5 separate regions of the Homo sapiens genome follow, and regions 1, 2, 4 and 5 are each linked to region 3. Evidence: fine-mapped expression QTL. A gene starts in region 3. Each other region holds a variant in brackets. All regions are shown on one strand. Distances are between the middles of the regions.

Region 1 (5,100 bases), 26 kb before region 3:
AAGTGTATTTCCTTTTTTTTTTTTTTTTTGAGACGGAGCGTCAATCTGTCGCCCAGGTTGGAGTGTAATGGCATGATCTCAGCTCACTGCAACCTCCGCCTCCCAAGCTCAAGTGATTCTCCTGCCTTAGCCTCCTAAGTAGCTAGGATTACAGGCATGTGCCACCATGCCTGGTTAATTTTTTTTGTATTTTGAGTAGAGACGGGGTTTCACCATGTTGGCCAGGCTGGTCTCAAACTCCTGACCTCAGGTGATCTGCCCACCTCGGCATCCCAAAGTGCTGGGATTACGGGCGTGAGCCACCACACCTGGCTGTATTTCTTCTTTATTTTGTTACGAATATATCTGTGTGTGTGTTTCAGCTAATAAATGTACACAAAATGATAGAATTAGGAAATGATCATTTTGCATCTCCTTATGAAATAATTAATGCAGGCAAGGTTTTCTGGTTGCCCTGGCAGTGAGAATGGTGGTGGGACTGCTTGGTAGCCAGCCTCACAGCCAGCTCCGCCTTAGGTCGCCAGAGTTTCTATGCTGTTACCTTGCTCAGGTCATCAGCAGTTCTTCAAGCACCATTTCTGCAAGGACTGGTCAACTGTCTGCCTTTGTCTTGTACATAGTGATACAGTGACACAGAGACAGCTATGGCAGAAGGTGGGCAGGGGCAAGAAAGGGGAAGGAAAGCGGAGCACAGATTTTAACCTGGGCAATGTCTGCTGTGTGGATGGTGGTGAGATGGCCCAAATTCTTCCCCATCAACCAAAGCCAGTCACACTTAGAAAGGTATTGTTAGTGGAGGAGAGAGAGGTGAAGGGAATAAATTTCCCATTGGAAAAGACAAGGCATATAGGGTGGGTGGCCTGGATTTCTTTCTTTCTTTTTCTTTTTCTTTCTTTCTTTTTTTTTTTTTTTTTTTGAGAGAGAGTGTCCCTCTGTCGCCAGGCTGGAGTGTAGTGGTGCCAATCTCCGCTCACTGCAACCTCTGCCTCCGGGGTTCAAGCGATTCTCCTGCCTCAGCCTCCCAAGTAGCTGGGACTACAGGCATGCGCCACCACGCCCAGCTGATTTTTGTAGTTTTTAGTAGAGACGGGGTTTCACCAAGTTGGCCAGGATGGTCTTGATCTCTTGACTTCGTGATCTGCCCGCCTGGGCCTCCCTAAGTGCTGGGATTACAGGCGTGAGCCATCCCATCCCACCGGTTTTGTTTTTCAATATACTGGAAGCAGCCAAAATGCACGTGGTCCTGGGCTTCTAGTGACTGCTGGGAAGTCTGGAGAAAGGTAATATTTGTATTTAATATCCTTGTGTTCAGTGTTAAGTAAACATACCTAGAACAGCAGAGATTATTAAAAACATTTAAAAAGGCCGGGCACAGTGGCTCACGCCACTAAAATACAAAATTATCCGGGCGTGGTGGTGCATGCCTGTAATCCCAGCTACTCGGGACGCTGAGGCAGGAGAATCCCTTTGAACCCGTGGGCGGAGGTTGCGGTGAGCCGCGATAGTGCCATTGCATTCCAGCCTGGGCAACAAGAGAGAAACTCCGTCTCAAGGGAAAAAAAAATACAAACAAAAAATAATAATTTAAAAAATTATTTAACAATTTCCATACAACAGGGAATTTTTTTATTTTTAAATTTATTTTTACTTTTATAGACCTTAGGGATACATGCGCAGTTTTGCCACAGGGATATATCACATAATGTTGAAAGTCTGCACCCAACTTCTGAATAACGTTCATATTTGTCTCATTCCCCTCCTATCCTTCTACTGAGGAGGCTTTTTTTTTTTCCTATCCTGAAAAATGTCACCGTAGGTCTATTTGATTAGGGAAAACAATGTTTTGTTTGACCCCGACGTGATTTGAACACGCAACCTTCTGATCTGGAGTCAGACGCGCTACCGTTGCGCCACGAGGCCTGTCCAACAGCGTGACTTGATGGGTCTGTTGAGCAGCAATAACGGGCGGACTTTTGTCATGAAGCCCCACCTTTAAGATTTGTCAGCGCATTTCTCTGAGGCACCAGCTGACGAGATGTGGGCGCATGTACGTAGGAATTAAATTCATCCTCTGGATAAATAATAGAGAGGCAAGTTGCGTTTAGGCGCATTTGGCTTAAGGCCCAATTCCTTAACTGGAATCACATTGAGCTCGTTGAGCTCACTCTACAGAGAAGCCATTTTTATGTGTCTAGGCCTTTTTTTTTGTTTTCTGGAGATGATA[A/AATC]ATCATGGTGTCGCTGCAGTTCTCGCCCCCTGGACAAATCTTAGACGTAATCCCAGCTCTGCCGGTGACTCAGCTTCCCTGGATCTTGGTTTCCTCGTCTGTAGACTGGGCATAACCCTACAGGTTCATGTGGGGTGGGTGGCGCGCGCTAGCGGTGAAGGTCACTCACAATTGCGCGCTGGGCAGACGACGGCAGCCATTACTTTTACCTCGATCGCTGTTTTCCTGGATCCGCACGGGTCCAACCCGACTCATCCCAACCAACCTGAGGTATGAAAACCAGGAAAGAGAGCTAGCACCGGAGCGTTGGTGGTATAGTGGTAAGCATAGCTGCCTTCCAAGCAGTTGACCCGGGTTCGATTCCCGGCCAACGCAAGTCGTTTTGGGTGTTTTTTCCCCCCCCCGCCTTTTCCTTTTCGTGTTTTCTGGGCCCCAGCATCGTTGAGGGTTTTCGTGAGGTTTTCCTGAGGAAACTTCCGCTCCGAAAGGACCCACTTTCCGCTACACCCGCGACCACGGCTGGACCACCGCGCTCCTGACGGATGCGCCCTGCAAGCCCCTCCAGGCGAGAGCAGCGCGTCGGAATCTCGGCCCGGGGTTGCCTACTGTTCCCGGATCGCAGTGCGAATCCACAAAAAGCAGGGAGGCGAAAGGAAACAAAAGCCCGGGCTCTGCACCCTGGACGGCTGGGGGCCAAAGCTACTTGCCCAGGTTCAAGCAGAGACTGGAAATGCGCACTTCCGTCAAGGAGGGAGCAAGCTAGGCCAAGTCTGAGCGCTAATGAGCATACTGAGCAGAGCAGATAATGGCCACTTTAGGTACACGTTTGAACTCTAAGTTGCTTGAAGTAAAATGGAAACTTAGAATGCGAGCTGGAGAGGAAGGCCAAACTCTCCTCCCCTCCTCCTTTCCCTCTTTTTTATAGCTCCATCCCAGGGACCAGGACGGATTTAATGAAAGCAAAAAGATAGAAGTTTCAAAACTGCTAGTACTCTCCCCGTCGGGGAATCGAACCCCGGTCTCCCGCGTGACAGGCGGGGATACTCACCACTATACTAACGAGGAGGGACCTGTAGAGACCTTTCTCCGAATCCTTGATCTGAGACTTTACACTCTGCGTGCTGACAGCAGGGTTCCTAGGGGTTCTGTTCTTCCAACCACTGATAAACGCTGACCAGAAACCGTAGGTGTATTTCAGGCACCAATCGTCAGATGGAGTGACCGAAAGAGACAGAGTGCCTTCAGGACTGCAGAGAACCAAGTTTTGACAGTTCCTGGGCTCTCCCGAACACTGTCATCCACAACTATAGATTGACGCGTGTCAATCAAAGCGAAACCAGGCTGTGGTGGCCGAGTTGAGACACCAGGAAGGAAGTCAGGAAGCAGAAAGGGAGGGACCTGCCCAAGTCTGGGCGTGCCTCGTCTCTTCCTGACATGCCAGGCGGGTCTGGGGATTGAGATGCTTTCTGCTACCGCGGTGCCACAAAAGAGCTTACTGTACATTGATGACTTACAGTCAAGCCTCCTGCAGCGCTGGTCAGGTAACCTATTCCTTGAAGACACTCTTGTCTCAGTAAAAGGTAAAGGAGGGCTCGTCCGGGATTTGAACCCGGGACCTCTCGCACCCGAAGCGAGAATCATACCCCTAGACCAACGAGCCGACGTGCGGACGTTGCCGCGAACCGCCTTAGAGGTCGTGCCAGGCTTGCTGTAGTGCTGGGTCCACTATGCATGGCGGAACGGTCCGGGCGCACGCTCACGGACCAGCCTCCCCCAGGCCGAGTATTTTGGAGCACTGGGCTGGGAATCTCTTGGCTCCGGGCCGCGAGCTCCGGCTCCTCCCAGGAAATAGCGTCAAGGAAGTGGGAGGGAGTGGCCTCGGCCTCGCCCCCGCGCCGCCTTGCACGACTGCCTTGAACACCCGGGTTGTTGCTTCCTTTGGTTACCGACTTGGTGCCATTCCGTAACCTGGGATCTTGACACTTCCTGCCTCCGCCTGCGGTCCTTGGACCTAGCTCTTCGTTGCAGAGCTTTGAAGAGAAGCGGTGGAATTGCTTGCTTTCGGGACGGGCAGGAGAAATCACTAGGGGAACACCAGTGCCCCGTGTCTGTCTATCCTCCTGGGCTAACGGGCAGGGCAAACCCTGGGCCAGACCCATCGATAGTCCACGGGTTCCCCAGACCGCATGGCAGTACCCAAGCGAGGGAAAGAGGGAACGATTTCTGGGGCCCAGAAGACCCACGGAAGAGGGCGTTATTGAGCTGGGTGACTGGAGGGGGACAGGCTTTCCACCCTGCAGTGGGGCGGGGCGCAAGGCCAGGCGACTAGTCTCATGGCTTCCGGACTGTAAGATCAGGTTACCCCTACCCTACAGTCTAACCTCTGCTCCCCAGTCCCCTCCTAGAATGGCCTAGAAGGGAGACCCTCCTGCCTGCCTCCTAAGACCCCCCGAAGGCTCTGAGGCACGTGGCCGCATGAATGTGGTCGAAGGCCTGTAGACCCGGTTTGGGGACTTAGCAGTGTCCCCGGGACTGCCCAGTGAGCCTCTGCGCTCTTAAACACTCACCATGCTGCTCTTACTCCGGAGCTGCCCAGAGTCCCAGCAAGATCTGGTGGGGTCGGTAGCAGACCACGTGTCCTGCCTTTCCTCAGCTCAGTGCCTGTTCTGGGGAGTCCTCCCAGCGGGGTTCTGGCCTGCATCGGCCCTGGACCAGCCTGGTGTCATCTGTGGAACCATTTTGTTCTACACCCCAGTTGTGTGATTTGTGGGGCCAGGCCGTTCCTAATGCCCAACCCATAGATACGATGACGGGGCTTTCAGTGAAGGATTCAGCTCCTATTTGTCTTTCCCAGGTTCCCCTGGACAGACAGTGGG
Region 2 (5,100 bases), 34 kb before region 3:
CGCCTCGGCTTCCCAAAATGCTGGGATTACAGGCGTGAGCCACCGTGCCCGGCCTTCTTCTTTTTATAAAAAAAATTAAATCTTTAATGTAACTGGAGTTTATCCTTATGCATGTATGAGCTGGGGTCTAACTTCTCTGCCCGATGGAGCGCCAGTTATGTCAACACCATTTGTTAAACAAACTGCCCCAACAGAATTTAAATGCTGCCCTTGATATATAATGTTAGCATATTTACTTGTGTCTATTTCTAGACTTTGTATTCCGTTGTTTGCTCATTTGCCTGTGTGTTTATTCTTGTGTCATTACTATGTCGTTCTTAAAAGTTCTGACATTCCTGGGAGGAGTTTTTCCACCAATAGACCTTTCGTTGCAAGATCTCTGTTAGCTGCCGTGTTGTTTGGGCCCACTTTCATTTTTCCTCCTTCCTGCCACACTTCCTTCTTTTCTGCTCTTCCTAACCCTCAGATTTCATTACTGGGTTAAATAAATACATTTTTGGGCCTTCTATGAAATAACCAGTGGATATTTATTAAGTATGTACTGTCCAGCACTCTTCTCCTTTCTTCTAACACTCTATTTTTCCTTTAGGGGACCACCTGTCTCTCCAGTCTATGCAGTCGGTTTCTGTAGTAGTTTCTGTTGCTGACAACCCCAAATCCCTAGGTTGATGAAGACCTATTTAAATCTCACTTTTTTTTTTTTTTTTGAGATGAAGATTCGCTGTGTTGCCCAGGCTGGAGTGCAATGGCACAATCTCAGCTCACCACAACCTCCTCCTCCAGGGTGCAACTGATTCTCCTGTCTCAGCCTCCCGAGTACCTAGGATTATAGGTGCATGTGACCACGCCCGGCTAATTTTTGTATTTTTAGTAGAGACGGGGTTTCATCACATTGCTCAGGCTGGCCTCAGGTGATCCGCCCGCCTTGGTCTCCCAAAGTGCTTGGATTACAGGCGTGAGCCACTGCGCCCAGCTTTATTCCCACTTCTGAAAGCACTTAGAGTTTTGAGGATTTGAGAAGGAAACTGACTTCATTGCAGGTCCAGAAATGAGCCCCAATTAACTTATACTAATCAATACCTTTTATTCCAGATTATGGTTATTGGATCAGGCATAAGCCTGTGATTTAAGTGGGCCAGCTAGTGGGAATCAGTTTCTTGCTCAGAATGCTGGGCAGCTCAAGGAAACACTTAACGTTTACTGGTTTATCATAAAGTGTATTACAAATGATATAGATGAAAAGATGTATAGGGCAAGGTATGGAGGAAGAGATTTCTGGAAGTGAGCAGGGAAGCATGCAGCCCTCATTGCTGCTTCTAGTGCTACTGAAGGAAGCAGCTTGACATTGAAGCCTAACATTGCAGAAGGCAGAAGAGAGGCCTGGAAAGAACTTCAGGACTTGATGACATTGTTGAGCCTCTACATGCCTACGTTAGCACTTTTCTTACATGAACAATAGAGAAGATTATTATTCAGCTAATATCCTTTCTGAATGCATTCTAAATGCTATTTGCTGTTTAAGCATATTGTGTAGAAAAAACAAACCATGGCTAGGCTTGGCGGCTCACGCCTGTAATCCCAGCACTTTGGGAGGCTAAGGCGGCTGTATCACTTGAGCCCAGGAGTTTAAGATCAGCCTGGGCAACCTGTGAAACCCCGTCTCTACAAATAAAAAAAAAAAAAATTAGCCAGTATGGTAGTGTGTGCCTCTAGTCCAAGCTACTTGATAGGCTGAGGCAGGAGGATCAGCAGAGGCCGGAGGTCAAGGCTGTGGTGAGCCATGATTGCACCACTGCACTCCAGCCCCGACATTAGAGTGACACCCTGTCTCAATAAAAACAAAAAATGGGCAGGGCGCAGTGGCTCATGTCTGTAATCCTAGCACTTCAGGAGCCCAAGGAGGGTGGATTGCCTGAGCTCAGGAGTTCAAGACCACCCTGGGCAACATGGTGAAACCCCGTTACTACTAAAATACAAAAAATTAGCCAGTTCTGGCCAGGCGCGGTGGCTCATGCTTGTAATCCCAGCACTTTGGCAGGCTGAAGTGGGTGGATCACGAGGTCAGGAGTTCGAGACCAGCCTGGCCAACACAGTGAAACCCGTCTCTACTAAAAATACAAAAATTAGCTGGATGTGGTGGCAGGCGCCTGTAATCCCAACTACTTGGGAGGCTGAGGAAAGAGAATCGCTTGAACCTGGGAGGCGGAGGTTGCAGGGAGCTGAGATCGCATCACTGCACTCTAGCCTGGGTGACAGAGCTAGACTCCGTCTCGAAAAAAAAAAAAAAATTAGCCAGTTGCGGTGGCGGGTGCCTATAGTCCCAGCTACTCAGGAGGCTGAGTGAGGCACAAGAATTGCTTGAACCTGGGAGTGTTGCAGTGAGCCGAGATCACGCCACTGCACTCCAGCCTGAGCAACACAGCAAGAGTCTGTCTAAAAAAAACAAAAACAAAAAAAGACCCAATTTTTCCTCTGCCCTCACACCACAGCAATCAACACAGGAGACTTCTGCGACCACATGTGTGGAGATTTTACTGCACCACCAAGCAATCAGTTCTGCAATCAAGCAATCTGTTCTGCAGCAGACATCAGCTGGGTGTCTTCCGATTAGATTCTGACACTATCTACCCAGAGAGAGCATCAGATCCCATAGGTTGAGGGCTCAGTCCCACAAGACTGCCCCTCACTTTGGATGCCAACTGCAAGCCTCAGGTTGTTTTTACCTGTACTCATGACTAACTGGGTGTAAGCT[A/G]GGGTTCCTACGATTCCCTCTTTATGTTCAATGAATTTGCTAGAGTGGCTGACAGAACTCAGGAAAAAATGTTTACTGGTTTATTATAAAGGATTTTTTTTTTTTTTGAGATGGAGTCTCTCTGCCACCCAGGCTGGAGTGCAATGGTGCAATCTCGGCTCACTGCAACCTCTGCCTCCCGGATTCAAGTGATTCTCCTGCCTCAGCAGGAGAACTCGCCACCACGCCCAGCTGATTTTTGTATTTTTAGTAGAGACGGGGTTTCATTACGTTGGCCAGGCTGGTCTCGAACTCCTGACCTCGTGATCCACCCGTCTTGGCCTCCCAAAGTGCTGGGATTGCAGGCGTGAGCCACCGTGCCCGGCCTTATAAAGGATATGACCAAGGATACAGATGAAGAGATGCACGGGGCAAGGAGGTGGGAAGGGCATGGAACTTCCATGCCCTTCTGAGGTGTGCCGCCCTTCAGGATGCTCCACGGGTTCAGCTCTCAGGAAGCTCTCTCTACCCCATCCTCTTGGGTCTTTTATGGAGACTTCATTAAATAGGTGTGATTGAAGCATGACGACTGTGTAGAAATGTGATTGGACGAAGAGGGTATGATCTAGTACTAATAGGCTGAGTGGGGAAGCCCAGCAAGGCCTGTCTAGATTCTTCCCGGCTTCTCTGTGCAGTATTCCTTCCACCTTCTGAAATGGGGGTCTTATGACCTATAATTGAACAAGATTGTTCAGAGAATTTATTTATGGCCAGCTTCAGGACAGACAGGAAAGAGGTAAGATAAGATATATATATATATATATATATATATACACACACACACACAGTTTGTTTGTTTGTTTTTTGAGACAGAGACTCGCTCTATCGCCCAGGCTGGAGTGCAGTGGTGTGATCTCGGCTCACTGCAACCTCCGCCTCCCGGGTTCACGCCATTCTCCTGCCTCAGCCTCCCGAGTAGCTGCGACTACAGGCACCCACCACCACTCCCAGCTAATTTTTTTATTTTTAGTAGACATGGGGTTTCACCACATTGGCCAGGCTTGTCTCGAACTCCTGTCCTTGTGATCCATCCACCTCGGCCTCCCAAAGTGCTGGGATTACAGGCATGAGCCACTGCACCTGGCCTTTTTTTTTTTTTTTTTTTAAGAGAAGGTCTCTTTTGTCCGAGGCAAGCACTCTTGCTGCACAATCATAGCTCATTGCAGCCTCAGAACAAGTTTGGACTTGGTTACACCAATTTGCTTCTTTAATCTATCAATTTACCTTTAACTGCCGGCACATCAACGTAGTGAAATATACCTCATGTATTTGCATTGCCATTGTCTCTTCTGTGGAGAGGAGGGAGCAGGCAGAGATGGTTGGTCATCAAAGGGGACTTAAGTTTTGCCTTTAATGTTCTAATTTTTTAGAAGGTGTATAGAGTCATGGAACTGTTTGCAGGATTAAATATTAATGACAAATAATCCCTAAAAAGAAGGTGTGGACCAGGCACGGTGGCTCACGCCTGTAATCGCAGCACTTTGGGAGGCCGAGGCGGGTGGATCATGAGGTCAGGAGTTCGAGACCAGCCTGGCCAACATAGTGAAACCCCATCTCTACTAAAAATACAAAAATTAGTCAGGTGTGGTGGTGGGTGCCTATAATCCCAGCTACTCCAGAGGCTGAGGGAGGAAAATCTCTTGAACCTGGAAGGTGGAGGTTGCAGTGAGCTGAGATCATGCCACTGCATTCCAGCCTGGGTGACAGAGCAAGACTCATCTCAAAAAAAAAAAAAAAAGAAAAAAAAAAGAATTGAAAGGAAGTATCATAAATATTCAGAAGCAGCGTTATTCACAACAGCCAAAAGTTGGAAGCAGCCCAAATGTCCATCAACTGGTGAATGAATAAACAAAATGTCATATATCCATAAAATAGAAACTTACTTAGTCCTAAGAGGAATGAAGTACTGATATTTTATTTCATGGAAACCATGAAAACAGTATAAACAAAAGAGGCTAAGCTGAGCACAGCAGCTCATGGCTGTAGTCCCAGCACTTTGGAAGGCTAAGGTGGGCAGATCCCTTGAGCCCAGAAGTTCCAGACCAGCCTGGGCAACATGGCGAAATCCCGTCTCTACAAAAAATACAAACATTAGCCAGGTGTGGTGGTGGGCACCTGTAGTCCCAGCTACTCAGGAGGCTGAGGCAGGAGAGCCGTTGAACCCAAGAGGCACAGGTTGCAGTGAGCCAAGATCGTGCCATTGCACTCCAGCCTGGGCAACAGAGCAAGACTCCGTCAAAAAAAAAAAAAAAAGATAGAAAGTTCACATATTATATGATTGCATTTACATGCGATATCCAGCATAATAT
Region 3 (5,085 bases):
AGTACTATGCTTAGTACAGGGGTGACGAAATAATCTCTATACCAAACCCCCATGACATGAGGTTACCTACATAATAAACCTGCGCACGTCCCCCTGAATCTAAAATAAAAGTTAAAAGGAAAAAAAAGTCTTCAAGTTCTAGATGTCTTCAGCATCCTTGTGGACAGCCCTACCACTGACTTTCAGCCCACTTCAGCCACACACTCATTCATGGTCAGAGTTGTGGAAGGCAGACCAAATCACCATTCAGAGTTGCCCCACCAGTATAAGCAAAGTTCCGACTCTCACGCTTTTTGTCTTCCTCTCCCAGTATTCTTTTGTAGTTCCTGTTTCTCGGATGGCCTATCCTTTGCTTGGTGCACTGAATACGACTGTCTCTCAAAGTGATCCCATGGCTTCAAGGTAAAATTACCTAAGTTTTGTTAAAAAGGCAAATTCGTGTTTTCATCTACTGAGTAAAAATGGAGCAGACTGGATGTGGTGGCTCTCGCCTGTAATCCCAGCACTCTGGGGGGCCAAGGTGGATCGCTCGAGCCCAGTAGTTCACTACTAGTCTGGGCAACAAGGCAAAGACCCGTCTCTACAAAAAAGAAAAATTAGCTGGGCATGGTGGCTCGTGCCTGTAGTCCCAGCTACTCGGGAGGCTGAGGTGGGAGGATCACCTGAGCCTGGGAAGGTTGAGACCCGCCTGGGCAACATGGTGAAACTCTAAAACAATTCAAAATTAGCTGGATTAGCCTGGCGTGGTAGCACATGCCAGTAGTCCCAGCTACTTGGGAGGCTGAGGTGGGAGGATCACCTTAGCCTGGGAAGGTTGAGACCCGCCTGGGCAACATGGTGAAACTCTAAAACAATTCAAAATTAGCTGGGTTAGCCTGGCGTGGTAGCACACGCCAGTAGTCCCAGCTACTTGGGAGGCTGAGGTGGGAGGATCGCTTGAGCCCAGGGAGGTTGAGGCTGCAGTGAGCCATGATGGTGCCACTGCACTCTAGCCTGGGTGACAGAGTAAGACCTTGTTTCAAAAAAAAAAAAAAAAAAAAAAAGGAGGGAGGAAGAGGAAGATCCAGATTAATACAGGCTGAAGTTTAAGAACACAATATGCTTTCCCACAATTATCTCAACCACTGCATGGGTTTAACAGCCATGGCCAGATGATGATTGTTCCTGTATGTCTACTTTAGCTGAGATCTCATTCCTGAGCTTTAGTCCTATCCATCTGCCAGACTCTCCATGGCCAATCCACAGGCAGCACACATGCCCAACACTGAACTTTCCACAAAACCCTGTCCTTTTCTAGAACTCTTCTAGTGTTATGTTCACTAACTTAGCAAATAGTACCCTTAACCAAACAGTTGTTCTATCCTGAAACCTAGATGTCCTCCTTAGCTCCTTCCTTTCCCTACATAGGTCCCAGTCCTGGCTGGGTGCAGTGGCTCACGCCTGTAATCCCAGCAGTTTCGGAGGCCAAGGCGGGCAGATCACGACGTCAGGAGATCGAGACCATCCTGGCTAACATGGTGAAACACCGTCTGTACTTAAAAAAAAGAAAAAAAATACAAAAATGAGCTGGGCATGGCGGCGCGTGCCTGTATGCCTGTAATTCCAGCTACTCGGGAGGCTGAGGCAGAAGAATCGCTTGAACCTGGGAGGCAGAGGTTGCAGTGAGCCGAGATCGCGTCACTGCACTCCAGCCTGGTGACAAAGCTAGACTCCGTCTCAAAACACACACACACACACACGCACACAAACCAATCCTTTAGATTGTATTTTCTTAACATCTTATTTATTTATTTATTTATTTATTTATTTATTTATTTATTTATTTGAGATGGAGTCTGGCTCTGTCGTCCAGGCTAGAGTGCAGTGGCGCGATCTCGGCTCACTGCAACCTCCACTTCCGTGGTTCCCTGCTCAGCTTCCTGAGCAGCTGGGATTACCGGCGTGTGCCACCACACCCAATTACCCTCATGTTAAAGTCGCTGCTTAGCAAGAGGTACAAAACTGTCAGCTCTGACCCCTCCACCACCACCCAACTGAACTTTTGAGTTTTTCAGACACCTGCTCTATCCTCCTGCCTTTGAATATGTGTTTGCTTCCGTCCTGAAACCCCTTCCGGCGCTTTTTTTTTTTTTTTTTTTTTTTTGACAGAGTCTCGCTCTGTTGCCCAGGCTGGAGTGCTGTGGCACAATCTCAGCTCACTGCAGCCTCCGTCTACCCGGTTCAAGCGATTCTCCTGCCTCAACCTTCTGAGTAGCTGGAATTACAGGTGCGCGCCACCACGCCCGGCTAATTTTTGTATTTTTAGTAGAGATGAGGTTTCACCATGTTGGTCAGGCTGGTCTCGAACTCCTGACCTCAAGTAATCCGCCCGCCTCCGCCTCCCACAGTGCTGGATTACAAGCGTGAGCCACCACACCCAGCCCCTTTCGGCGCTTTTTGCCTTCTACACGCACTTCGGGTCTCAGACGCTTTTACTTATTATGGTTGCCCTTTTCCCCTACAGCTCCGTCAAGGGTCTTCTCCAGGAACCCACAGCCCCATAGTTCCCCCATTAACCTGCTCCTGGTTTCCCACCAGGATTAAACCCTAGAGAGTGAACGGAGACCAGTTTAAGGCTCACAGCGGGCGCCGCGTGAATGAGGGAATAAACATTCGCAGAACCAGTAAGAGGTAGGAGCGGACCGACTCACAACCCCCTCACCCATGGGCCGGACGCGGCCAGCGAGCCCAGAGAGACAAGGCAGAGGAAATAGGAAGAGAAAGAGTATCTGTGACAAACAAGAAAAAAGGAACAAGAGACGTAATAGCAGCACTCACGGAGGAAGGGACCTGGGCCCGGCCAGCCGCCATGATGCGCCGGAGCTCCGCCCCCGGGAGGGGCAGGTGCTCGCTTGGGGGTGGGGATGGGGGTGGGGGGGCGCTCGGTGACGTCACCGGTGAGCGGGTTTCCTCGCCACCTCCAGCTCCTTCTCGCTGCTCACCCCCTCGCTTCCTAGAGACTCCGCGAGGCGCCTCGGTGCACCATCCCAACTCCCGACACCCCTGTCTCTTTTCTCTGATTTTTTTTTTTTTAAGACGAAGCCTGGTTCTGTCGCCCAGGCTGGAGTGCAGTGGCGCGATCTCGGCTCACTGCAACCCCCGCCTCCCAGGTTCAAGGGATTTTCCGGCCTCAGCCTCCTGAGTAGCTAGGATTACAGGCACCTGCCACCACCACGCCCGGCTAATTTTTTTTTTTTTTTTTTTTTTTGTATTTTTAGTAGAGACGGGGTTTCACCATGTGGCCAGGCTGGTCTCAAACTCCTGACCTCAGGTGATCCACCCGCCTCAGCCTCCCAAAGTGCTGGGATTACAGGCGTGAAACACAGCCCCTGGCCCTCTCTGATTTTTTTGAGACGAGGTCTCGCTCTATCGCCCAGGCTGGAGTGCAGCGGCGCCATCTCGGTTCACTGCAGCCTCGACCTCCCGGGCTCAAGCGATCCTCCCACCTCAGCCCACCAAGTAGCTGGGATCGCAGGCTTGCACCGCCACACCCGGCTAATTTTTGTATTTTTCTGTAGCGACATGGTTTCGCCATGTTGCCCAGACTGGTCTCGAACTCCTGGGCTCAAGCGATCTGCCCGCCTCGGGCTCCCAAAGTGCTCGGATTACAGGCGGGAGCCACCGCGCCCAGCCTCCGTCTCCCTCCTAAGTGACATCCTGTCCGGCATCCCGCAGGCCTTCAGATGGATGGGGTAGCAGAGCTCAGGAACTCAAACACAGCCCGCCTGGTGGATGACTTCTAAGCATCTTTCAGTCTCCCTGATCTTGCCAAGCAGAGAAGGGCTTCCTCGTAATGCCACCAAAGCACAACTTTCACATGCTTGCTTTATGGCCTTAACTAACTGATGTCATTACTTAACTGTCCCCGCGGGGACGGGGAACTGAATGTATTTTCACAAACGTCAGTTCAAGACAGATTTGTGGGAGAAACCACCTGGGGATAAACCTCTCCCCACCAAGAACCTAGAATTCGGCCGGGTGGCTGGGGAAAAGTGGGCGGGGCGTAGTCGCCCCGGCGCTGGCAGGTCCAGTCTCTGCCCGCGGCGCACGCGGATGACGTAACAAACGCGCGCGACGATTCGAGGTGCTCTGTGGCCGCGAGTGCATCTTCCACGTGAGTATAGTTACCGCGTGCGGACCTGGATCCTCCTCCAGGTGCAGCGTTTCGTCATCTAGCCCAAGCTTGGTCTGGCGGCTTCAGTATCCCCACCGGGCCGAGCTGTGTCTACTTGGTGCCCGCGTATTTGCTTTAGTGGAGGCGTCCATTCGTCCTATCTTGCGTGCGTTCCGCAGACCCCAGGCATGGCCGACCCCCATGTAAATTTAGCCCCATTGTCCCATTCATGGATTCAGCTAACAGAAAGACTGCCGGCCGCCTACTTTATATCAGGCACCATGCTGGTCATGGAATACAGCCCTCATGCACGCAAACCCTGTCTCTGAGCTCTTGAAGCTTATATTTTACTGGGAATGATAGACGGAAATCAAGTGGCTTAATAAACAAAATGCCTTCAGGAAGACTGTCCTGAAAGTTGGGGAGGGGCTGAAGAGTGGTGAGAATCAAGAGTTCATTAAGTCATTCCACAAGTTTTAGAATTTTTTTGCGTTTCAAGCCCTGGTATTGTTCTAAGCCTTGGTAATTCAATGGAAACGAAGCAGCAACATCCCATGCCCACGTAGAGATTTTTTTTCTAGTGGGGAATATAGAGCGAAAAATAAAAACATCCAATAGTGATAAGCGCTTTACAGGAAATTAAAATAGGGCCGGCCATCTGATAGTAACTACTTGAGTGGCTAGTGAAGCCTTTTCCACGAAGGCGAATCACCAGAAATCTAAATAACAAGAGCTAGCCATGCATATGTCAGGGTGAAAAAAATGCCTTCCAGGACTGAGCTTGGCAAGTTAGAGAAATAAAAAAGAAGCTAATGTGTGGTTGGTGCATTGTGGGTGAAAAAGAGAATGGTGTGAGATAGGGTTGGAAAGGTAGGCCAGAGAGTGGCCAGACTTGGTAAACCAGGATGCTGAGTTGGAATTTATACCATGTG
Region 4 (5,083 bases), 600 kb before region 3:
CAACCTCCTTTCCCACTAGTCTCCGACTAGTTCTCTCCTGGAGCCAAGCCAGCCACTCCTGGGGTAGACTGTGCTTACTCCTGACTTCACACCTCTGTGCCTTTCATTCCTTTGTCCTGGAAGACTACCTACCCTTCAGAGGCCAGCCCCAACTCCCATTCATTCATTCATTCATTCAATGCATACCATTTTTTTGAGATGGAGTTTTGCTCTTGTCCAGGCTGGAGTGCAGTGACACAATCTCGGCTCACTGCAACCTCCACCTTCCAGGTTCAAGCAATTCTCTTGCCTCAGCCTCCTGAGTAGCTGGGATTACAGGCTCCCACCACCGCACCCGGCTAATTTTTTTAGTTTTAGTAGAGACGCAGTTTCACCATGTTGGCCAGGCTGGTCTTGAACTCCTGACCTCTGGTCTCGAACTCCCTTGCTCAGGTGATCCATTGGCCTCGGCCTCCTATAGAGCTGGGATTACAGGCATGAGCCACTGGGCCTGGCCGAGATAATGATTTTTTTTTTCTCTCTTTTTTTGAGACGAAGTCTCACTCTATTGCCCAAGCTGGAGTGCAATGGCGTGATCTCAGCTCACTGCAAGCTCCGCCTCCCGGGTTCAAGCAATTCTCCTGCTTCAGCCTCCTGAGTAGCTGGGACTACAGGCACCCACCACCATGCCCAGCTAATTTTTTTTTTTTTTTTTATTGAGACGGAAGCTCTGTTGCCCAGGCTGGAGTGCAGTGGAGCGATCTCGGCTCACTGCAAGCTCCGCCTCCCGGGTTCATGCCATTCTCCTGCCTCAGCCTCCCAAGTAGCTGGGACTACAAGCTCCCGCCACGACGCCCAGCTAATTTTTTTTTTTTGTATTTTTAGTAGGGACGGGGTTTCACTGTGTTATCCAGGATGGTCTCGATCTCCTGACCTCGTGATCCACCCACCTCGGCCTCCCAAAGTGCTGGGATTACTGGCGTGAGCCACCGCGCCTGGCCTAATTTTGCATTTTTAAGTAGAGACGGGGTTTCACCATGTGGGCAAGGCTAGTCTCGAACTCCTGACTTCGTGATCTGCCCGCCTCGGCCTCCCAAAATGCTGGGATTACAGGCATAAGCCACCGTGCCCGGCTTGAGATAATGATTCTTAACATGTGGTATGTAGAGCAAGTGTACTCCCGCCCTAGACTGTGAGCCCCGTGAGAGATGTGGCTTCAGTGTAACCTCTCTGGCCTCCCCAGGGCTACAGCACACAGTCTATAGAGGTGCTCAATAAATGTTTGTTGACCCAAGTAGACACATAAGGAGGTGAGTTCCGACGTGGGGGTGGGGGTGCCAGGAGGCAGAGAACCGAAGTAGACCTGGCTGCAGGGCTGGGATCTCAGGGCAGTGCTGGGGACTGGGAATGTGGTGTTGAGAGGGCTTCAGGGAGACGTGATGGGAAGATGGGGAAGCCTCTGCACGTGGACAGAGCCAGGTGGTGTGGACAGGGGCTGTGAGATTGGAGAAGGAGGCGTCTGGGGGACTGGTAGCGGCTCCCAACAGGGGAACGTCCCTCTGGGGGTGGCCTTTATCCATCTCTGCGGGGCCTGTCCTAGCTTCCCTCCTGGCTCGGCCAGCCTCCCGGCTGGTCTCTTCGCTCTCTTTCTTGATCTCTAGCTCTTTATTCCTCTGACATTCTGCCCCATCTGCTCCCGGACTCTTCCGCCGCATCTGTATCTTAGTCTCTTTCTAACTCCCTGCCTGGGGCCCCCACCTTTGAGCATATATCGGCTTCTCTCTCTGCCGTTGTGTTTCTCTGGGGTTATCTTTCCCTCTACTCCGCCCGGACACGCCCTCTATCTCTTCCTCCCACCCTGTCCCAGTCTAGTACCTGGGGTGGGGGTAATGGAGAGACAGCTAGGTCCCTAAGAGAAGTCAGGGGGGCGGGCCCAACCTCTCCATATTTACATATGTATGAGGTCGCCTGGGCCAGTGGCGAGGAGGCGGAGCTTCTGGGGGTGGGAAGGGGGCGGGCACCCCCAGAGCCGCAGA[G/C]TATAAAGACCGCGCTCGGCGACCGCGGGCCTCGCACTGCTGAGGAGCGGAGCCTCCGCCTGGGGGGCCCCCCATCCCTGGCTGTCCCCCAGCTGCGCGTCCCCGCCCCACCCCCGCGGCTGAGCCACCACCGGTGCAGTGGTCTCCGCTTGGCGGAGCGAGCCTTGAGCTTCGTTCCACAGCTTCTTTGCATCTTGGATTTCGGGGCGGCCCCCTCCCCCACCTCTCTCTGCCTTTTTGTACCCCGCTTTTTTTCTGCGTTCTGCTCGGTTTTTGTAGCCGTCTGTTTTTGCACCCCATTTCGTTTTGTTTCTAGACGGTTTGGTGGGGGGTGAAGCTGCATTCATACCCCTTCCTCTTGTTATTCTCCCCTGCTCTGACAGCACCCCTTTTCATCGCAGTTGGGGGGCCTAGGATCGGTGCATCTTCCGCCGCGCTGCCAGCACCCCGCAGCGCGTGGTCGTGCACCCCGGAATCTGCAGCAGCTGCATATCTGAGGGGGGTCTCCTTTGCCCGCGCCGCCTTCGCTCCCCGTGCTTTTGGGTGTGTGGAGGGCTTCAGCGCGCGGCGCCCCCGCTTCTCCGCAACCCCCCGCCCCGCGCCCGGACTCGCCCCGCGCCACCAAGATGGTCATCCAGAAAGAGAAGAAGAGCTGCGGGCAGGTGGTTGAGGAGTGGAAGGAGTTCGTGTGGAACCCGAGGACGCACCAGTTTATGGGCCGCACCGGGACCAGCTGGGGTACGCAGGGCCGGCACGCAAGGGGCGGGGGAAAGCCGCGGGGCGACGCCTCGGGGGCGCAGGGTCCCGCCGACGCGGCCCCAGCTCCCCTCCCGGGTCCCCGGCGTCCAGCCTCCCTGCCGGGCTCTGGGCTGGGAGGGGGCCGAATCGCCAGTCTAATCTCCCCGGCTGGCCGTGCGGAGGCGGAGAAAGTAGGTCACAGCCGCCTTCCCGCCCCCCGCGGAGCCCCCTCGGGCGGGGGGTCGCCAGCTCCGCCTGCGTGTCCGCGCCGGCGCTCACACTCCCTCTCGGGGCCTGTCCGCTCCACACGGGCGTCCCCCACCTCCAAAGAGCGCCCCTTCCCTCCCTCCGGCTCTCACTAGCTCCGCAGCCCCGTCTATTTTTAGCTCGTGCCCACCCCCTGGACCCTGGGAACGTTCATGAGGGGGCGGGTCTTGGGGGGTGTGTTAGGGGGGTTCTTCACGGCGGAAGTTGTCTGTATCCCACCGCCTGGCCTTGGGAGCCTTCTGGGACTGCTTTGTGGGTTGGGGGGCTGCTGATAGTATGAGTTTTACCGAGGCTGCAGGTTTTGCTCCCATGTCGGTGACGGAGGGAGGAGTGGTCGCTGTGGTGATTTGTGTGCATCAGCCAGCCAGGTGTCTGTGACAGTCGGATGACTTGGAAGCCTCCCCAGGCTGACCATGGCAGGACTCAGGGAGCTGTAGTGGTCGGGGGTTGGGGGGGTGGAGGGGGTCTGGTGACCGGCACAGGTGCAGGTGAGGGGTGGAATTCTTCCAAGAGGGATGGTCAAGCTGGGACGTTGAGACACAGGGGACAGAGGACACTGTGTGACACGATTTACAATCTTTCCACACTGGGCACCGTCCCCATCAGTCCACCCATTCGGGGCCTACACGAAGTGGGTCCCATGCAATCCATTCCCTCAGGGAACTCAAACTCCAGCCCCTGGGATGAGAAGAATCCAGCAATGCTTGGGAGAGCCAGAGGACTTCATGGAAGAAGTGTCCTCTGAGATGGAAGGATTGGGAGTCCAGGGTGGTGGGAACAGCCGGCCCTTGGGTCCTTACTTCAGGCGGGGGAGCCATGGAGAGATCCCACCAAGGGAAGGCTGTGGGAGATTCTGCCTTTCCTCCCTGCCTCTGCCCAGGGTGCTGGGTGTGAACTGAGGGTGGGGTGACTGTTGAAGGTTCTAACAAGCCGTCTCTGAGAGATTTGTAGCTAGGCTAGTGTTAGGTCTTTCATTTCAGGAACTGTGTTCAAAGTTTGGCTTCTGAAGGGCACCAGGAGAGAGATGTTGCTATTCAAATCTGAGGGTCCAGTCTCTGCGGGGTGGTATGAGGGTTTGCTTGTGAATGGTGGCCAGTACCCGCTTTAAAAGGCACCATGCTAGCACAGCTTTAAGCATGAGTACGAATGCAGAGGTAACAGATGTGTGCCTTGTCAGGACTATGCATGGTTGAGAAGTTGGAAATGTAATTGGAGGCAAAATAACAGACCTCCACAAGGTCGGGCTTCACTGTGCCCTAGGACCAGGAGGGGGCTGGGAGTCATGGCTAGAAGCCAGACACAACTGCCTGTTTCCAGTTTGTCTCATTTTGCCTCCAGAGGAAGGCTCTAAGACATCCCTGTGGCTCTGTGATCAGTCCCAGTGCAGAACTTCAGAGTGGGTAGAGGGGTGTGTGGGGATAGTTGAGGTTATGGTGGGAACCTTGGGCCCTGCTGACCCTGTTTCCTCCTCCCTAGCCTTTATCCTCCTCTTCTACCTCGTTTTTTATGGGTTCCTCACCGCCATGTTCACCCTCACCATGTGGGTGATGCTGCAGACTGTCTCCGACCATACCCCCAAGTACCAGGACCGACTGGCCACACCGGGTGAGTGTGGAGGCTCCCCCTGCCAGCTACTCTAACTGCTCTTGTGCCCCCAAACCTCCAGAAGGAACTCATAGTTCCTTCCAGGAGTTTGATTTTGATGACCCAATCCCCACGTGCTTGGAAGTTCTTGAAATCTGTCCACCTTCCCATTTACTGCAGTTGGGAGCTGTGTGATTTGGGCATGTGGCAGATAGCCACAGGAGATCACCCTCCCATGAAGACGATCTCAGATATTCACCGCTGTCCCCACTCTGGTGTTCCCTGTGTCCATTTTCTTCCCTCTGTGTGCAGTCCCTCATCTTATAGATACCCCCAACTTCTGCCTTTGTTGGCTGTAGGCTTGATGATTCGCCCCAAGACTGAGAACCTTGATGTCATTGTCAATGTCAGTGACACTGAAAGCTGGGACCAGCATGTTCAGAAGCTCAACAAGTTCTTGGAGCGTGAGTGTGGGCCTG
Region 5 (5,091 bases), 43 kb before region 3:
TGGTGGCACATGCCTGTAATCCCAGCTACTCGGGAGGCTGAGGCAGGAGAATCGCTTGATCCTGGGAGGTGGAGGTTGCAGTGAGCTGAGATTGTGCCACTGCACTCCAGCATGAGTGACAAAGCAAAACTCCGTCTCAAAAAATAAAAAATAAATAAGCACCCCGCCCATTTCTTTCTCCCTAGAGATAGCCAGTTCCAAGTCTTTTCACTGTTTTATTTTGATTTGCTTTGGGTATTTACCATACTTTTTTTTTTCTTGAGGCGGAGTATCACTTTGTCGCCAGGCTGGAGTGCAGTGGCTTGACCTCGGCTCACTGCAACCTCTGTCTCCCGGGTTCAAGAGATTCTCCTGCCTCAGCCTCCCTAGTAGCTGGGACTACAGGCACACACCACCATGCCCAGCTAATTTTTGTATTTTTAGTAGAAGCAGGGTTTGACCATGTTGGCCAGGATGGTCTTGATCTCTTGACCTCGTGATCCGCCCGCCTTGGCCTCCTAAAGTGCTGGGATTACAGGCATGGCCTACTGAGCCTGGCCTACCATACATTTTTTTTAAGTTGTTAAACAACAGTCACGTATATTTTATTTTTATTTTTTTAATTTTTACGTTCTCAGGGTGTACAAGTACAGATTTCTTTTTTTTTTTTTCAAAAGGAGTCTTGCTCTTGTTGCCCAGGCTGGAGTGCAATGGCGTGATCTCAGCTCATTGCAACCTCTGCCTTCCGGATTTAAGCAATTCTCCTGCCTCAGACTCCCAAGTAGCTGCGATTACAGGCGTGCACCACCACACCCGGCTAATTTTGTATTTTTTTAGTAGAGACAGAGTTTCACCATGTTGGTCAGGCTGGTCTCGAACTCCTGACCTCAGGTGATCCACCTGCCTTGGCTTCCCAAAGTGTTGGGATTACAGGCCTGAGCCACCACGCCCAGCCCCTACCATACGTTTTTAAATCACATGCTTCCGTTGCTGCTTCTTAAGTTTTCAGTTTTAGGCATGACCTGTTTTTTTCCTGCTATAAAATTCAAGGAATTCACTCTTCCACCCCACTGCCACCATAATTTTGGTTAGATTTATTCATTTGACAGTAGTTACTGAGTGTCCTCTACATTCCGGGTACTGTTCTAGAGGCTTGGTGTAAAGCAATGAATTAAGAAAAAAAAAAAAAAATCAATCAATCCTGCCAGGCGCAGTGGCTCACGCCTGTAATCCCAGCACTTTGGGAGGCCGAGGTGGGCAGATTGCTTGAGGTCGGGAGTTCAAGACCAGCCTGGCCAACACAGTGAAACCCCGACCCGGTCTCCACTAAAAATACAAAAATTAGCCAGGAGTGGTGGCACATGTCTGTAATACCAACTACACGGGAGGCTGAAGCAGGAGAATCACTTGAGCCCGGGAGGCGGAGGCTGCAGTGAGCTGAGATCACACCACTGCACTCTGGCCTGGGCGACAGAGCAAGACTCTGTTTCAAAAAAAAAAAAAAAAACTTGTCCAGGCGTGGTACGCCTGTAATCCCAGCACTTTGGGAGGCCGAGGAGGGTGGATCACCTGAGGTGAGGAGTCCGAGAGCAGCCTGGCCAACATGGTGAAACCCCATCTCTACTAAAACTACAAAAAAATTAGCCAGGCTTGGTGGCGTGCGCCTGTAATCCCAGCTACTTGGCTGGCTGAGGCAGGAGAATAGCTTGAACCTGAAAGGAGGTTGGAGGTTGCGGTGAGCCAAGATCGGGCCACTGCACTCCAGCCTGCATGACAGGGTGAGACTCCGTCCTGCTGTGTAGCCAGGCTGGAGTGCATTGGTGCGATCTGGTCTTGCTGCAGCCTCCACCTCCCGGGTTCAACCGATTCTCCTGCCTCAGCTTCCTGAGTAGCTGGGACTACAGGTGTGCACCACCACGCTCAGCTAATTTTTGTATTTTTAGTAGAGATGGGATTTCACCATGTTGGCCAGGATGGTCTCGATCTCCTGACTTTGTGATCTGCCTGCCTCGGCCTCTGAAAGTGCAGGGATTACAGGCATGAGTCACTGCGCCCAGACTTAACTGTTTTTTTGTTTTT[GT/G]TTTTTTTTTTAAAGACTCTGAGTAAACTATGAGTAGAATAGGCCCTGTTTAACCTGATAAAGGGTATCTATCAAAAACCTACAGCAAGCATCATGCATAACAGTGTAACCTCATGTCAGGAACAAGACAGAATCACTGCTGCTTCTATTGGCTCCTGTACTAGATCCTGACCAGAGCAGTGAAATAATCAAAGACAGCTTCTAGGGTACAGAACTGTTTAGTTGCTCCTACGTTGGCAAAGGGGCAGAGAATGAAACAGAAAAGGAAAAACTAGAAGTTGGACAACCAAGAGAGAGGTGAAAGAAGGTGGCCAGAGATGGCTGGTGTTCCAATGTAGCAATGGGGAGCCAGGGCCCCCAGTGCCCCTGGGCTGTGGGAGTCTGAGCAACGGAAAGAATAGACAGTGAGGGTAGAGGTGGAAGTGGGGGTAGGGGTTGGGGTGGCTGGGAGCTGACCAGGTGGGTGTCAGAGCTGAGAGGGTAGGGTGTTACCAGGGATAGCAAAGTAATGCTCATCCCGGCTCCTCAGGGTGAGCCAGCTCTCCTTCTAGGGAACAGCTTCCTCCACAGCAAAGCCTCCACCTAGAAACATCTACACTCATGAGTACAAAAAGCTTCAGCCTTTATTAAACAAAGGAGGAGGTAGAAAACAGATAAGGGAACAGTTAGGGATCCCTTCTTTCCCCTATACATACACAGACATACAAACACACGCACCCGAGTGAATGACAGGGACCATCAGGCGACAGATTGAAGGGCAGAGGGAGGCAGCACCCTCCGAGAGTTGGCCCGGACCCAAGGGTGGGCTGAGACCTGGGCCAGGGGCAGCCGTTCCGAGGGGTTATGCCTGAGCAGTTTGGAGATGAGGTCCTGGGCTCCCATGGGCACGGAAGCGGGGAACTTTAGGTCCACCTGCAGGTGTGAAGAGATGGAAGGGCTGCATTAGTTTCACCCTGGCTACATCTTCCTTGACTACCCATTCTGTTTGGAGTTACTTAGGGCCATGCAAATACACTCTGCCCACCCCCAGCCCCCCAGCTCCTGGCTTCAGCAGCTGGCACGAAGCCCAGGCCGCCCTCCCACCTTGACGATGCGGCGATAGGTCTCGTTGTGTGATGCACTCTCAAAGGGTGGGTTCCCCACCAGCAGCTCATAGCAAAGCACTCCAATGCACCACAGATCCACCTTCTCATTGTGCATGCGCCCCTCAATCATCTCTGGGGGCAGGTAGTCCAGGGTGCCACACATTGTCTTCCTCCTGGGAGGGATAAGGGGCGTGGGCAGGGGTCCTAGTGACATAGGAACTCTCCTTTCCCTGCTGCCTGACGGCTGGGAGCCAAAAGACCACGGGATGTACCAGGGGAGAGGTCCAGCCAGGCAAGGCCACTGGAGTGGGGGTGGGGTTGGGGTGATGATATATCCCAAAGCCCCAGAGGTGAGCCTGCACACAGCCCAGCAACTCCACACTGAAGGATATATCTTAATAAGATACCCTGATATGAGGGCAGTGTTCATTTGGAGTTCACTGGGGACATCTCTAATGCCCATCAGGCATGTTCTGGTTAAATAAATCAGCTACTATGTGATACTATGAAACCATTAAAAAGTGATGTGGGAGGAAAAAAGGCCACTGCTCCGGGCTTTTTTTGAGAGAGTCCAGGCTGGAGTGCAGTGGGGCGATCTTGGCTCACTGCAACCTCTGCCTCCCGGGTTCAAGTGATTCTCATGTCTCAGCCTCCCGAACAGCTGGGATTACAAGTGTGCACCACCATGTCTGCTTAATAAATTTTGTGTTTTTAGTAAAGATGGGGTTTCATCATGTTGGCCAGGCTGGTCCGCTGGTCTTGAACTCCTGGCCTCAAGTGATCCACCCGCCTTGGCCTCCCAAAGTGCTGGGACTGGTAGGCGTGAGCCACCGCGCCTGGCCAAAGTTTTACCATTGGCCCCTACAGGGATCAAACCTGCGACCTTGGGGTTATTAGCACCACACTCTAACCATTTTTTTTTTTTTTTTTTGAGACAGAGTCTCGATCTGTCACACAGGCTGGAGTGCAATGGCGTAATCTCGGCTCACTGCAACCTCCGCCTCCCAGGTTCAAACAATTCTCCTGCCTCAGCCTCCCCAGTAGCTGGGATTACTGGCGTCCGCCACCATGGCCGGCTAATTTTTGTATATTTAGTAGAGACAAGGTTTCATCATGTTGGCAAATCTAGTCTCGAACTCCTGACCTCAGGTGATCCGCCCTCCTCGGCCTCCCAAAGTGCTGGGATTACAGGTGTGAGCCACGGTGCACGGCCCCTGGAGAGGTTTTAATGGCCCAGCCTCACACCCAGGTCTGGCCTCCCAGGCCACCATACCTCAGGGAGGGCGCATGCACAGACCAGCCGAAGTCAGCAATCTTCAGCTCTCCCTTGAGCCCTAAGAGCAGATTTTCTGGCTTTATGTCTCTGTGAATCACCTTCTTCCCATGGCAGTACATTAGAGCATCTGCCAACTCCTCCATGATCTGGGAGGGGCAACGACAGGCAATCAGACAAGGATGGACCTCCAGCTACAAGCAGCACACCCTCAGCCTCGAGCCCCCTACTGGCGCCCCAGGTGCCCACCCGCCCGGACCGTGGCTGTTCGCTGCTCGTCAAATGTGCAGCTCTTCTGCAGCTCCTTGTAGAGCTCCCCGCGGGGGGCATACTCTAGAATCAAGTAGATCCTCCTCCGGTCATAAAAATAGTTGTAGAGACGCAGGATGTTGGGATGGCTGGGGGAAGAGACAGAGGAGGCCTCAGGCCAAAGGCATAAAAGAGCTGGAAAAGATGATAGGAGCAAACTGGGGTCAGACGTGGCCCAGGCCGGGGACACCAGGGCTGGGAGTGGTAAGGGGAAACTGGAGGCAGATTTCTGGATTCAAGGCTTGCCAGGACTAAGAGCTAAATGGGGCTCACTAGCCATAGCTACAGAGAAAGCAATCTGGATGAAGTGGGGCTGAATGAGGAGCTGGGGGTGAGGGAGCAGAGGGGCTTCGGCTCAGGGGGCA

What was found. PIP is the estimated chance that this variant, and not a neighbour inherited with it, causes the effect.
Region 1: its variant is fine-mapped to the expression of CTC1 in monocytes after R848 (Quach 2016, PIP 0.95).
Region 2: its variant is fine-mapped to the expression of CTC1 in whole blood (TOPMed, PIP 0.98). The same link has a PIP of 0.9 or more in tibial nerve.
Region 4: its variant is fine-mapped to the expression of CTC1 in spinal cord (GTEx, PIP above 0.99).
Region 5: its variant is fine-mapped to the expression of CTC1 in naive CD4 T cells (Schmiedel 2018, PIP 0.92).

The regions. Positions count from the first base shown.
Region 1 is chr17:8,219,021-8,224,120 of GRCh38, forward strand. LINC00324 (long intergenic non-protein coding RNA 324) reads right to left here and starts at 5,023. Exons shown (of 3, transcript NR_026951.1): 1 at 4,792-5,023; 2 at 3,273-4,254; 3 at 1,610-2,489. TRW-CCA1-1 (tRNA-Trp (anticodon CCA) 1-1) reads right to left here and starts at 1,920; the gene lies at 1,849-1,920. It overlaps TRG-TCC3-1 (tRNA-Gly (anticodon TCC) 3-1), which reads left to right and starts at 2,528; the gene lies at 2,528-2,599. It overlaps TRD-GTC2-11 (tRNA-Asp (anticodon GTC) 2-11), which reads right to left and starts at 3,289; the gene lies at 3,218-3,289. It also overlaps TRP-CGG1-3. RefSeq lists enhancers at 1,678-2,564, 2,197-2,346, 2,857-2,996, 3,377-3,576, 3,899-4,640 and 2 more and silencers at 3,257-3,326, 3,787-3,836. The variant A/AATC (reference allele first, on the strand shown) is at 2,225.
Region 2 is chr17:8,211,045-8,216,144 of GRCh38, forward strand. No RefSeq gene overlaps it. Among named protein-coding and RNA genes, the nearest start is that of AURKB, 3.0 kb to the left of the region's middle. The variant A/G (reference allele first, on the strand shown) is at 2,753.
Region 3 is chr17:8,245,187-8,250,271 of GRCh38, forward strand. It overlaps CTC1 (CST telomere replication complex component 1), which reads right to left and starts at 2,870. Exons shown (of 23, transcript NM_025099.6): 1 at 2,818-2,870. The coding sequence starts at 2,850. PFAS (phosphoribosylformylglycinamidine synthase) reads left to right here and starts at 4,103. Exons shown (of 28, transcript NM_012393.3): 1 at 4,103-4,153. RefSeq lists enhancers at 2,667-2,806, 3,287-3,406, 3,531-4,287 and a silencer at 2,897-2,946.
Region 4 is chr17:7,648,878-7,653,960 of GRCh38, forward strand. It overlaps ATP1B2 (ATPase Na+/K+ transporting subunit beta 2), which reads left to right and starts at 2,049. Exons shown (of 7, transcript NM_001678.5): 1 at 2,049-2,753; 2 at 4,497-4,625; 3 at 4,964-5,068. The coding sequence starts at 2,642. RefSeq lists enhancers at 701-1,201, 1,202-1,702, 1,977-2,619 and a silencer at 1,959-2,108. The variant G/C (reference allele first, on the strand shown) is at 2,016.
Region 5 is chr17:8,202,074-8,207,164 of GRCh38, forward strand. It overlaps AURKB (aurora kinase B), which reads right to left. Exons shown (of 9, transcript NM_004217.4): 6 at 4,677-4,815; 7 at 4,418-4,566; 8 at 3,143-3,317; 9 at 2,661-2,971. The coding sequence ends at 2,798. Among named protein-coding and RNA genes, the nearest start is that of AURKB, 6.0 kb to the right of the region's middle. RefSeq lists an enhancer at 1,626-2,126. The variant GT/G (reference allele first, on the strand shown) is at 2,059.